Homo sapiens: one gene and its partners. The protein of the gene in region 2 purifies or fractionates together with the protein of the main gene of each other region. This does not show direct contact. Each region holds a gene or a part of one and is shown on either strand. Other genes may lie near its edges.

Region 1 (3,500 bases), on a different chromosome or scaffold from region 2:
AAAATCATCATGAACACCACTGCTAAGTAGGACTAGAATAGGAACACAATTCACATTAGAAAGTAATGGAGGAAATCACATAAGCTAAAATAAAATATCTCTTCAACTTAAATATTCTGTTTCCTAATAAAAAACTCAACTTAGGCAACAACTCCTTTTCATTAAAAGTCCATCTTTAAGTCATTCGCATAGTCTCAAGCATAACCTGCTTAATTACAAAGGGGAAAACATAACTCTAAAGCGGAGAGCTCTGAAGATCATCACATTAACAAGTGACCAAACTTAGCATCACCAACAGTGTGACAACATGACATAATGTGCCTTCTGATGGGATGCAATAAAAAATACATAACATCACTTCCACAGCACTCTTGCCAAATACGTTGAACCTGAATCTTACAATGAGTAATGAGGTAAATCCACAATGTGGGACATTCTACAAGACAACTAGCCTGGACACCTTTAAAAAGTCATGATCACGAAAACCAAAAGGTTGTGGATTAAAAGAGATTAAAGAGACCCAACAACGAAATGTAATGTGTGAAACTTGCAGGATCATCAATTTTAAAAAAAACAGCTATAAAGGGGGCATTTTGGGGGCAACTGGAAAAGCTTATACATAGACTGTATACTAAATGACATTACTGAATCAATGTTTTCAGGTGGGATTGTGGTTATGTAAGAAAATGTCATTATTCTTAGGAGATACATGCTTAAGTATTTAGAGATGAACACTCACATTGTCTGTAATTTTCAAATGGTTCATAAATATAGTTAAGTATACTTATAAAATATAGATACGCATTTCAGAATATAGAATATAGATGTCCCCGTATTTTTTAATACAAAATATAGATTCTGCACGTATATATAGGTGCTACGTATGTATACACATACACACAGAGAGAGAGAAAGAGAGAGCGCCAATGTGTCAAAATGTTAATTGGAGAATCTAGGTGAAGGATATATGGCATCTGAAATTTTTCAAAATAAAAAGTTGGAGGAAATCGGTAAGAAAGGAATACATACCATGGCAGTCCTAGACTTGATAAACCAGTCAAATCTAAACTGGGGAGCATTTCGTACACACTGTCTTAATTCTTCATATACATTTTCTCTATCAAAGCCCATTTTGTGTAACATACAAATCAAGAATCTATCTTCTTCCTCAGTATAGTTCTTTCCTTTGCTGGTTCCATACTGAATGCGCAACTGATGAAATGGAGCCTTGTATCTTGCAATCTGTGTATTTAAACAAAATAGTGCTTTTAATTGAATGTGCAGTAAGAAGTCAAAGCTGACCACTATTTCAATTAAAACGATCTAATAATAATTTGACATAAAACATAGTACTTTGGCATCCAGGGCTTTCTTGATACTGATCCTTCGTTGAATTCTTGCTTCTCCACGTTCAATTTGAGCCATAATTTTCTCAATGTCCTGTAATTCATTGCAACGTTCCCAAAATACAGCTGAAAAACAGAGTTATTTCTTTAAAATCCTATCATTTAAGCAAATAAATCCAAGGAATTGTAGAATAAGGAATTAATAGGAAAGAATACAATGAGCTTGTACTTCTTAAAATTAAGATTCAGATTAATCTTATATATATAATATGTTAAATTATTAAATACTACTAACTTTTCACTTAAAAATAAGACCTCAAAACAAGGTTTTAGGTTAGCAATTTTCCTTCATGAAATAGTACGGAGTCTTACGATCCATCCCAAATGACTAGGATTTCAAAAGATGATGCAGATACTGATTTAAGCTAGGCTTTTTACTCAAACATGATAGAAAAGGGACCAAACACATAAAGTGACACAGGAGAGAGTAATATATAAACAGTGAATATAGCTTCCTAGCATGCGAAAACAATTATGGGCCAGGCACAGTGGCTCACACTGTAATCCCAGCACTTTGGGAGGCTGAGGTGGGCAGATTGCCTGAGGTTGGGAGTTTGAGACCAGCCTGGCCAACATGGTGAAACCTCATCTCTACTAAAAATACAAAAATTAGCTGCACATGGTGGTGCGTGCCTGTAATCGCAGCTACTCGGGAAGCTGAGGCGGGAGAATTGCTTGAACCCGGAAAGTGGAGGTTGCAGTGAGCCGAGATCGCGCCACTGCACTCCAGCCTGGGCGATTAAGTGAGACTCCATCTCAAAAACAAACAAATAAACAAAAAACCCAAGCTATTATGAACAGGTTGTTCAAATTTTTTTCTATGGAGCAGCCATTTCTCTTGAAATTGTCATTTGCTTTTGGAATCACTCACTAATCATCTTACGGTATTTCCAATGACCAGTAGTGTGTTTTTAAACTTACTTGGAATACCCTTTTCTCATAAAAAAAAAAAAAAAAACCTCATTGGGATTTTAATTGCATACACACTGAAAAACATTCCAAGTCACTCAACCAAATTTTATAGATGAGCCAAATAATCTGGCTGTATTAATATGTCACATGACTTCAATGAAAGGCCTTTTAATGACATACTCCACATCCTCAAGCTTTTCATTTTTAGAGCCTATCAAGAAAGGTATGTGAGCACTCTGATTTTTATAAGCACCTGTGTTCATTTACTCATTCACTCACATATTCATTCAACAAATATTTAAACACTTGCTATGTACAGGATACTGTATATTCATGGGTGGTCAATTGTACACATTTCTTCTCTTACTGTAACCAACTACAACAAACTCATTGCAATCTCCTCACCCTGTGACATGGCCCCCAACCTGGCAGGCAGCAATTAAATAGTCCTGAGCTAGTCATGCCACCTGGCTTGGTGTCAAATTTGAAAGAAAGTCTGACAGGATCATCTTTTTAAATCACATTTTTTTCTTGCAACTTCACATACACCGATGTTATCTCCCTGCCTATCTTCTGAAAAAAATTCTTCTTAAAAATCTCTCTGCACATACCCTTTTACATTCTTTTCATTCAACTCTTGATGCTAAAATTTCTCTCTTCAATCTATTTTTTCCCCTAAGCCTCCAAATGCCCTAAATTTATGTGCTAAATGTTCAGAGTAATAGTAATATCATGCTGGTATGAAGGAAAAGGAAGTTCATATACTTAATGTTATATTATATGTAATAAAAACTCAATACAACTGACCTCTGAAGTCCCCCAGAAGACTCTTTTAGATTTCCAGAAGAAAAAAAAATCTCTCTAATTAAATCTGGATTTCTTCAAGCACTAGCATGCTAGATAAATTAAAAGCTGTTCCTAGCTATTATTAATCTTTAGTATATTTATTGGTACTGTAATGTTTCTTTCCTACTATTGCAAAAACAGAATTTCAGTGGTAGGGTTAAATAGATTTGGGGCAGGGGCTATCATAGAAACTTAAACCTACTTTGTAAACTTAAACCTACTTTGCCATTGTTTCAATGACAAAAAATGCTCTAGATTCTAAACATCTTGTTTCAAATGATAAGTTTAAGAGCTGAACCTATTTGGAAGTTAGAAAAGTCCCATGTACTACATATA
Region 2 (3,500 bases):
TAACAATTAACATCAATCCATGCATATGTAAAAAAGGCCTAAAAATATTTCTTAAATAACAAACCTAAAATGTAATAAAAAGATTTATTCCTTACATTCTTTTACATAATCACTAAGTTTTTAATATAACTACTAAACAAAGCTAAACAATGAACAATAAATCATCAATTGACTAATTAAGTACCAGAAGGGGAAGCAGGTATGTTATCAATTACTAGTGTGAATTTTAAGTAGTATTTAAAATATCAATTGCCATATTTCAATTGAAAATTATACTTTTTATTTTTTCCCCTGCGGGCATCTGATATACCGAAAGAAGCAGAGTTTAATACATGTTCCAAGCATTCCCCAGGCTTTTAATTCTAAAAAGGAAATGTCCTAAGTACAACTTCTATTTTTAAATTCCAGAAATCATCTGGCATTAGTCAGATAACTCATACAGGAAAAAAAAATCTTTTTTATGGAAACACAGTGTCAAAAGCATACCATGAAGTCATTCAAATGTCAGCTCCTGAGAGGTCTTCCCTAACTACTCTACCCACTCCTCAGCTAATTGTTATATCAACTGCACAGTTCTTTTAGAGTAATTATTATAATCTGTAACTATCTTCTTAACTGTTTATCTACATATATATGATTCCACCTCCCCTAAAGAGGCTCCAGGAGATCCATATTTCTTTTACCATTGTATTCTCAGGGCCTAAAATACCATCGGGTATATTCATTCATTCATTCATTCATTCATTCAACAAATGTTGTCTGAACACTTCCTATACACAAGGAAGTATGCTGGGGAAAAAACTGTGACCAAAAGAGATATGGTTCTAGCCTTTGTGGAGCTTACAATCCAGTCAGGAGATAGACAAAATTAAAAAGTACAAATTGAGTGAAGTGCTATGAGTAAAACTAATAGGATACAATGCTGAAGATAAGAGTGGGAGGGAGACACACTCAACTATGATAATGAGATTCTCAAAAGGAATCTATTACCCAAAAATGTTAAGAACCACTGCTCTACAGGTCTAGGCAGCTGCTCTGGCAGTTAATTCCCCAGGGCAAATACTGCTGCAATTTCCTCACAAAATAAAAAGTTTAAAGGAATCATGGGGTTAAAAATAAAATGCAATTTTTTTTTTCTTAGAGATGGAATCCTGCTCTGTTGCCCAGTGTAGTGGTGTGATCATGGCTCACTGGAGCCTCGACCTCCAGGGCTCAGGTGATCCTCCCACCTCAGCCTCCCAAGAGGCTGAGACTACAAGTACACACCGCCAAGCCTGGCTAATTTTTGTATTTTTTTGTAGAGATGGGGTCTTGCCATCTTGCCCAGGCAGATCTCAAACTCCTGGGCTCAAGTGATCCTCCTGCCTTAGCGTCCCAAATTGCTGGGATCATGCTAGGCATGAGCCACCATGCCCAGCCTAAACAGAAATTGGTCTCTTATCGATTACTTAAGCTGTTTAAATGTGACTAGAAATTCCTTTCCTAAGTATTTCAAATATGTTTTTCTTTTTAGTCTAGCTTCATTGTCCTTAGAAGGATTAGGAAATCTCACCTATAGTGAAAGAAGGCAGAAACAGAGAAACTTATCCTAAACACCATCACATTTTGGCAGTGATTTTAGACTTCCAAAAAAAAAATCAAGGAAGTGTAACTTGATATGAATTTTACTAAGGCATATCAGCATTCTGATCTCTCTCCTCAGAAAATGCACATGCAGAATTTTGCACATAATTTCAGAGGATTCACAGAATCTCTGAAGCCAATCCACAAATTCCAAATACCTCCCCTATAGAATGACAGAGCCCATAAAAAACACTGCATAAATACTTTTTTGAGTTACTGATCCATTATTAGCAATAAGAATGTAGCTGAACACTGAAATAATTATACCACATTCAGAAATTTTGAAACTTTTACGTGAAGCAATGACTCCAGAAGAATTCCTCATAATTTCAGGCACGGTGTTCACTGATGAAATAAAACCACTGATTCAAGAGTTCTTTAGTACGTAGATAACAACCCTGATTCAACAAGTCTCCAAAGAGAATATTTCCCAACTCAGACTAAATGACTTACGTTCCGTTTTCACTCTGTGTGGCCCCAATGTAGCCATTGCCTTAATTAAAAAAAAAAAAAAAGAGGAAGAAAGAAGTCTGAGTTCAGACTGAAAATATATTTTGGTATCTATTTAATATATACAATATTACCGATTAACTCCATAACAAAGACAGTAAAGTATAACCATTAGCTGCTCTAACAAATTTTTAATGTCTAAGACCATAAAGAATATGAGGGATAACAATTTCTCCTAGAGGTGTTTTCAATACCTGAAATAATCTCTAATTCTCAACTAAGAAATTTACAAAAATGAAAAAATGTAATATGGAAAACAAGCCTCCACTTTCAGGCAAGAAAAGAAAAGCCTATGATTCTTGAATGTTTAATGATAGGATGCAAGACACATAAGGGTTCAAATGTTCTTTTGTTCAACAAATATTTATCAAGTGTTTTCTATAAGCCAGGACCAGCCAAAGGACTAGGCACAGATGGTGATGTTATTATTTTTGGGCAGACTAAATAAATGTTTTTTGGACTTTTCCATAAATTATTAGTTACATTATTATAGAAAAAATACAATCAAACTGCTGACATGTCTCTAACTCTTAAAATATCCTTGTAGTTCACTGCTATCTGTAATAGTATTAAATTGCCTTAGAAAAATGTTGCAAAAGCAAAGCATATTTACAATAATATTTTGATGTACTAACAAAAAAAACATAGAATCTTAAAAAGTAGACTATAAAAACATACTTGTGTTCCACTGCTCATTAATCATACCTTCCTAATTGTTGTCCAGTCTTCAAGAATATCAAGATCTTGTAGCATATAAACTATATATGGACGTTGAATAGTCAAGGTCAATTTAGCTGTAAGAATATCACACTTTGAATTATATTTCCAAAGTACTACATTTCAGAAAATGGAACGATGATTTATGAGCATAATGCTTTGGCATCCTAAATTCTGACTTCAAATTATTCTTCAAACCACTTAGTACCAGCATAAATACAGTCTAGTACTTCTGATGTCATAACTACATGCCCTTAATTCCATGATATCATTGATTGTAATATACATCACTAACACAATCACTGGTTTTTAAGGTGGAGGGGAAAAGATGGGGGTAGAGGGATGGTACCATAGAGAATGCCGAAACTGAATATACGTATTAATTTACACTCCAATTTTGGAAACATTTAAAAATGTTTTTAAAAAGTATACGAGGCTAGGCACAGTGGCTCATGCCTGCAATCCTAGCACTTTGGGAGGCCAATGCAGGCTTAAGCCCAGGAGTTCAAGACCAGCCTGGGCAACACGGCAAAACCCCATCTCTACAAAAAATACAAAAATTAGCCAGGCGAGTGGCACGTGCCTGTAGTCCCAGCTACTTGGGAGGCTAAGGTGGGAGGATCACCTGAGCCCGAGAGGTTGAGGCTAAG
Region 3 (3,500 bases), on a different chromosome or scaffold from region 2:
AGTCCTCGAACCTCCCCCCATGAGACAGGGCTTATGCTGGCAAAGGGGGGCAGTACACCGCCCAAGAGAGGATTCATAATTTATTTATGACATTTAACAAAACCCAGACATCACCTCATTGGTGTCACATCAAAAGAAAGCATCAGTCCTGAGTGGGGAGTGGAGGGAAGAGACGGGGATAGATGAGGCATTTACCCCAAGTGACTGGGGCCTGGGGGGAGTCACCCTGGGGGTGCAGGGAAAGCAGGGAGAGGCCCAGGGCATGGGTGGGGAGGAGGAGGACAGAATGGTGAGAGGGGAAGTCAACCTGGGGGGACAGGGAGGGACAAAAGAGAGAAAAACGGCCAGACAGAAAGGGAGAGGCAGGGGCATGACCTCAGGGGAGACGAAAACTGACAGATATGGGGACAGAGGGAGAGAGAGAGACAGGGAAGGAGAGTGAAATAAGGACAGAGCCACAGAGATAAGCAAAAGCCCAGAAAGTTAGACAACACACATTGTGTTCAGTACCCAGCTCAGAGAAGATATTCCAGAAGTCTCTGATGGGTGGACGGATAATTGTATAGTGAATGGATGGATGGTGGATAGGTGGATGGATGAATGCATGGTGGATGGATGGTGAATAGATTGATGGATGATGAATTGATGGATAGATGGTGGGTAGATGGATGGATAGATGGATGGATGGTGGGTGGATGGATGGATGGATGGATGGATGGCAGATGGATGGACACTGGACGGATGGTGGATGGGTGGATAGTGGATGGATGGTGGATGGGTGGATGGACGAATGGATGGTGGATAGATGGTGAATAGATGGATGGATGATGAATTGATGGATAGACGGTGGGTGGAAGGATGGATGGTGGATGGGTGGATGGATGAATGGATGGTGGATGGATGGTGAATAAGTGGATAGATGGTGAATTGATGGATGGATGATGAATTGATGGATAGATGGTGGGTGGATGGATGAATGGTGGATGGAAGATGGAGGATGGACGGATGGATAAATGGATGAATGGATGAATGACGGATGGATGGATGAAAGATGAATGGATAGATGGATGGATAGATGGTGGGTGGGTGGATGGATGGATGGTGGATGAAGGATGGATGGTGGGTGGGTGGATGGATGGATGGTGGATGAAGGATGGATGGATGGATGGATGGATGGCAGATGGATGGCTGAATGGATAATGGATGGATGATGGATGGATGGTGGGTGGATGAATGGTGGATGAATGGATGAGTGGATGGTGGATGGATGCATGGATGGATGGTGGATTGATGAATAGATGGACAATAGGTGGATGGATGGATGGCAGATGGATGGATGGTGGGCGGATGGTGGGTGGATGAATGAGTGGTGGATGAATGGATGAGTGGATGGTGGTTGGATGCGTGGTTGGATTGTGGATTGATGGATGGATGGTGGGTGGATGGATGGATGGATGCATGGATGGATGGTGGATGGATGAATGAATGGATGGTGGATGGATGAATGGATGGTGGATGAATGGATGAGTGGATGGTGGATGGATGCATGGATGGATGGTGGATGGATGCATGGATGGATGGTGGATAGATGAATGGATGGATGACGGGTGGATAGATGGATGAATGGTGGGTACAGGAATGGATGGATGGTGGGTGGTGGATGAATGGATGGAAGCATGAATGGTGGATGGGCAGATGGATGGATGGTGGATGGGCAGATGGATGGATGGTGGATGGGTGGATGGTGGATGGACAGATGAATGAATGGTGGATGGATGGATTGGAGGATGGATGAATGAATGGTGGGAAGCATGGACAGATAGTGCATGGATGAATAGTGGATAAGAAGAACAAGAACAAATGGATGGATGGATGGATGGATGGATGGACGGACGGACGGATGGATATACATATGGATAGATAGGTGGATGGTGAATGGTTACTTGGTTGGTTTTGTGGGTCGACGGGTAGATGTGGGAGAGCAGGTAGATACATGGATACATGGATGCATGGATGGATGGATGGATGGTGGGAAGCATGGACGAATAGTGCATGGATGAATAGTGGATAGGAAGAACAGATGGATGGATGGATATGGTATGGATATGGATTGATAGGCGGATGGTGAACGGTTACTTGGTTGGTTTTGTAGGTGGATGGGTAGATGTGGGTGGGTAGGTAGATGGATGGATGGATGATGGGTGAGCGACTGAATGAACTGATAAAATGATAGATGGATCCTATTACCTGATCAACTTGGAATGACAATGAATAACCCACTGGCCAAGCCACTGGGCAAAGTGTGCTGGTCATTTTGTCTCCCTCCTCCCAGAAAAGAATGTTAAATACAATCAGGCTCCCTGGGACCCCCCTACCAAACCATGCTTCCACAGGGGTAGGGGTGCAGGCTAAAATGTCATGGCCTTTTGGGAATCATGACTGTCACTCTCTCCTGGCCCCTGGACCTGAGGAAGCAAGCCTAAGATACTTACACATCTAGGGCCAATTGTCACTGGGGCCAGAGAGGTAACGGTGCCTAGTCCAGACATTGCCCATTCTGGGCTCACTAGCTTTGTCTGTGATTGAGGAAAAGCTGGGCCAATGAGGCAGGGAATTTGCCAGCCCAGCAGTGGCCCTAAGAGGGCTGAGAGCCACATTTTCTGAAGCCCTCTCCTGCTTCCTGCCACCCCTACCTTGGGCTTCACAGCCCTCCTCCCACCCAGGCTCCTACTCCCCTGAGCTTACTGGCTAAGGATGCAAGTATCAGAAGCATTTCCTTGGAGAAGGCAGGACAGCTGCCCTCCTTGGCTGGTGCTAACTACACCAGCCACAGTTTATTGAGCACCTATCATGTGCTGGGCACTGTGGCCTAATGTTCCACATGCACTGTCTCACTGTTCCTCATAATAACCCTCTATGAGGTAGCCAGTGCTATGTCCCCATACTACAAGTGGGCACACCGAGGAGAGGGCTGCCTGGCTTGTCCAAGACCACTCAGCTAATGCTCAGAGCTAGAAGCCAAGGCCTCATCCCACCAGCTCTTGACCCCTGGCTTCAACCAGCCACCCCAACTCCCAGGAGAATCTGGCAACTGCTGGTCCCCCAACCAGAAGAGGCACCCGCCCTGCCTTCCTCCTAGAAGCTGGCTCAGACACCTGCCTCAATGCCAGAGCTGGCCAGGGCAAACCTCCCCCTCCCCACCATCACTGCACGGGAAACAATAATTCACTGCTGAGAGTGAGCAACTCCCAGGGGGAGGTGGGAGATGAGCAGAGTCAAAGAAAAAAGATCGGACAAGTCATGAGTTTAATAGCCGTAGACTGAAAAATCATCATGACAGCTTCCAAAACACTAGCTCCTCCAGCCACAAACTTCCATCTTTTGGAACCAGCTGGTTCTGGTCTTTGGGGGTCACCGCCACTGAGCTTGGACTCAGGGCTGCATAGGGGCTATGAGGAAGAGCTCAGGGTGAGTGGGGGGCCAGCAGTGCGACTTGACAG
Region 4 (3,500 bases), on a different chromosome or scaffold from region 2:
GGATTTGCTGGGTCAATAGGGTATTTGTATGTTTAACTTTATGGGATACTTGGCCAGACTGACTTCCAAAGTACTTTTATACTCACATCAACAGTGTATTAGAATTTTCGTTATTCCATATCCTCACCAACATTTTATGTTGTCAGTTTTTAAAGTTTTAGGCATTCTACTGGGTTTATAGTAGTATTTCTTTGTTAATAGTACTTCATAGTGGTTGTAAAGATTAAATAGGTTTTAATTGTCTTTTCCCTCATAACTAATGCTATTAAGGATTGTTTTTTTAATGTGGTTATCGACTATCTCCTTTTGGACTCATGTATTCACATCTTTTGCCCATTTTAAAATTAGGTTATTTGTCTTTTTGTTATTAGTTGTAGGTGTTATTTACCTACATATTCTGGATGAGTCCTTTATGCAGATTACATGTTTTGTGCACATTTTTCTCTCAGTTTGTGGTTTGCCTGTTCATATTCTCAACTTTTTTTGTATAACTGGAAGTTTTTAGTTTTAATCATGTCCAGTTTATTAATTTTAAAAATTTCTATTAGTGTTTTCTGGTTCATGCCTAATATCTTTGTCTACCCCAAGGAGATCATGAAGCTCTCCTAATGTTTTCTTCTGGAAGGTTTTTAGTTTTAGCTTATTAAAATTATGTCCATGATCCATCTCATGTTATTTTTCATGTCCAATATGAGGAAAGGGATTAAGGTTTGTTGTTCCATGTGGATATCCACTTGTTTCAGTATAATTTGTGTGAATGCCTTGGTGCGTTTTTAACAAAAAAATATTGAACTTACACGTGTGGATCTACATCTGGACTTTTCTCATTCATTGTCTGTTTTTCTGTCAATATCGTACTGTCTGGATTAGTGTAACTTTCTATTGATTCCTGGTAGTGTGAGTCCCACATCTTTATTTTTTAAAGATTGTTTCGATTATTCTTGACCTTATTTCTGTATACATTTTGGAATCAGGTGGTTAATTTCTATTTAAAAAGTTCTGACTAATCTTAAGATTACATTGAATCTAAAATTGAATGTGGGGAGAATTGCTATCTTAATAACATTGAGCCTTCCAGTATATGAACATGATGTATTTCTGTATTCTAGAAATGTTTCAGGTTTTCAGTCTTGCATGTATTTTGTTAAATTTATCTGAGTAAATCTACATCTTTTGATTTTTGATGCTCTTAAAAATGGTATACTTTTTTATTTATTTATTTTTGTATGTGTGACATGTTCTCACTTTGTCACCGAGGATGGAGTGCAGTAGCGTGATCTCCACTCACTGCAACCTCTGCCTCCGAGCTCAAGTGATCCTCTTACCACAGCTTCCCGAGTAGCTGGGACTCCGCATACACCACCATGCCTGGCTAATTTTTGTATTTTTTGTAGAGACAGGGTTTCGCCTTGTTACCCAGACTGGTCTTGAACTTCTGGGTTCGAGTGATCTGCCCACCTAGGCCTCCCAAAGTGCTATTACAGATGTGAGCCACTGTGCCTGACCTAAAAATGATATACTTTAAACATTTTCTCTTCCAATTGCTTGTTTTATGTGTGTGCATGTGCATATGCATGGACACACAATGGCACAGTTTGTGTAATTGTTTTGTATTCTGCAACCTTGCTAAATTCACTTATTATTGTAGTTTTTTGTATTCTGGGCTTTTTCTGAGAGAGTGGCTCACTCCATTGCCAAGGCTGGAGTAGAGTGGCGTGATTGTGGCTCACTATAGCCTTGACTTCCCAGGCTCAAGCGAACCTCCCACCTCAGCCTCCTGAATAGCTGGGACTATAGGTGCGTGCCACCATGCTTGGCAAAATTTTTTTTTTTTTCTAGGGACAGGGCCTCACTATATTGCCCATGCTGGTCTTGAACTCCTGGGCTCAAGCAATCCTCTTGCCTCAGCTTCCCAAAGTGCTAGGGTTGCAGACATAAGCCACCACACCCAGCTATAGGATTTTTTTTTTTAGATGTAGATTATTTCAGATTTCCTGCACACAAACATTACCTGTTAATGAAGAAAGTCACAGTTTTTCTTTGCCTTATACAGTTGTCCATTGGTATCTTCAGGGATTTGGTTCCACGATCCCCCGTGAATACCAAAATCTGCCGATGATCCGGTCCATTATACAAAATGCCATAGTGTGGCTGGGCATGGTGGCTCACATCTGTAATCTAGCACTTTGGGAGGTTGAGGCAGGCAGATTGCTTGAGCCCAGGAGTTTGAGACCAGCCTGAGCAACATGGCAGAACCCCATCTCTACAAAAAATACAAGAATTAGCCAGGCATGATGGTGTGCATCTGTAGTTGCTACTCAGGAGGCTGAGGTGGGAGGATCTGCCTGAGCCCAAGAGTTCTAGGCTGCAGTGAGCTGTGATTGTGCCACTGCACTCCAGTGTGAGTGACAGAGTGAGACCCTGTCTTGATAGATAGATAGCCATATAGCCGGGCATGGTGGCTCACGCCTGTAATACCAGCACTTTGGGAGGCTGAGGCAAGAGTTCGAGAAGACAAGCCTGGTCAACATGGTGAAATTCCGTCTCTACTAAAAATACAAAAATTAGCTGGGCGTGATGGCACACACCTGTAATCCCAGCTACTTGGGAGGCTGAGGCAGGAGAATTGCTTGAGCCCAGGAGGTGGAGGTTGCAGTGAGCCGAGATTGTGCCACTGCACTCCAGCCTGGGCGACAAAGCAAGACTGTGTCTCGGGGGGGAAAAACAGCCATATAGTACAGTCAGCTCTTTGTATCTGCAGATTCTGTGTTTGAGGATTCAGCCAATCTCATGTTGATCCGTAATTGGTTGAATCAGTGGATGTGGAACCTGCATATGTGGAGAGCCACTTGTGTTTCATTTTCTTGCCTTACTGCACTGGCCAGAACCTCTATTACAATGTCAAATGGAAGTGATAGAGTAGACATCCTTGCCTTATTCCCAATTGAAGAAGGAAAATTTTGAGCCTTTCACCATTCACTATGATGTTAGCTGTAGGTTTTTCATATGTGCCCTTTATCAGGTTGAGGAAGTTTCCTTCTATTCCTAGTTTGGTGAGAGTTTTTATTATGAAAGTGTTACCTTCTAATGCTTTTTCTTTATCAAGATAATCATAAGATTTTTCTCCTTTAATTCTGATAATGTGGTGAATTACATTGATGAGGTTTTAAGTGTTAAATTAGCCTTGCATGCCAGTATATTATCCTTTTTCTGCTTTGCTAGATTTGACTTGGCAATGTTTTGTTAAGACTCTTTGTTCATGACAGGTAATGGTTTCTTTTTTCATACGTCTTTGCTTGATTTTGGTATCAAGGTTTCCTGGCCTCATAAAATGAGTTGGGAACTGTTTCTTCTCTATCTTCTGGAAGAATTTGTATAAGACTGCATTATTCCTTTAAATGTTCAGTAGCATTCACCAGTGAAGTTTTATGTGCCTTGAGTTTTCTTTGTTGGAAGGTTTTTAACTATACATCTAATAAATAGATTTAATACTGTTCTGA

What was found.
Region 1: the proteins of BRMS1L (region 2) and SMARCA1 purify together in Homo sapiens (affinity purification with mass spectrometry, with the first as the bait; one large-scale study listed by BioGRID). This does not show direct contact.
Region 3: the proteins of BRMS1L (region 2) and CHD5 purify together in Homo sapiens (affinity purification with mass spectrometry, with the first as the bait; one large-scale study listed by BioGRID). This does not show direct contact.
Region 4: the proteins of BRMS1L (region 2) and HAT1 purify together in Homo sapiens (affinity purification with mass spectrometry, with the first as the bait; one large-scale study listed by BioGRID). This does not show direct contact.

The regions. Positions count from the first base shown.
Region 1 is NC_000023.11:129,464,491-129,467,990, forward strand, and holds part of SMARCA1 (SWI/SNF-related matrix-associated actin-dependent regulator of chromatin subfamily A member 1), read right to left. Parts: intron 1,473-3,500; coding exon 1,354-1,472; intron 1,243-1,353; coding exon 1,030-1,242; intron 1-1,029.
Region 2 is NC_000014.9:35,864,338-35,867,837, reverse strand, and holds part of BRMS1L (breast cancer metastasis-suppressor 1-like protein), read right to left. Parts: intron 2,904-3,500; coding exon 2,839-2,903; intron 2,117-2,838; coding exon 2,077-2,116; intron 1-2,076. UniProt on the Homo sapiens protein: Involved in the histone deacetylase (HDAC1)-dependent transcriptional repression activity. When overexpressed in lung cancer cell line that lacks p53/TP53 expression, inhibits cell growth.
Region 3 is NC_000001.11:6,173,822-6,177,321, forward strand, and holds part of CHD5 (chromodomain-helicase-DNA-binding protein 5), read right to left. Parts: intron 1-3,500. UniProt on the Homo sapiens protein: ATP-dependent chromatin-remodeling factor that binds DNA through histones and regulates gene transcription. May specifically recognize and bind trimethylated 'Lys-27' (H3K27me3) and non-methylated 'Lys-4' of histone H3.
Region 4 is NC_000002.12:171,928,961-171,932,460, forward strand, and holds part of HAT1 (histone acetyltransferase type B catalytic subunit), read left to right. Parts: intron 1-3,500. UniProt on the Homo sapiens protein: Histone acetyltransferase that plays a role in different biological processes including cell cycle progression, glucose metabolism, histone production or DNA damage repair. Coordinates histone production and acetylation via H4 promoter binding.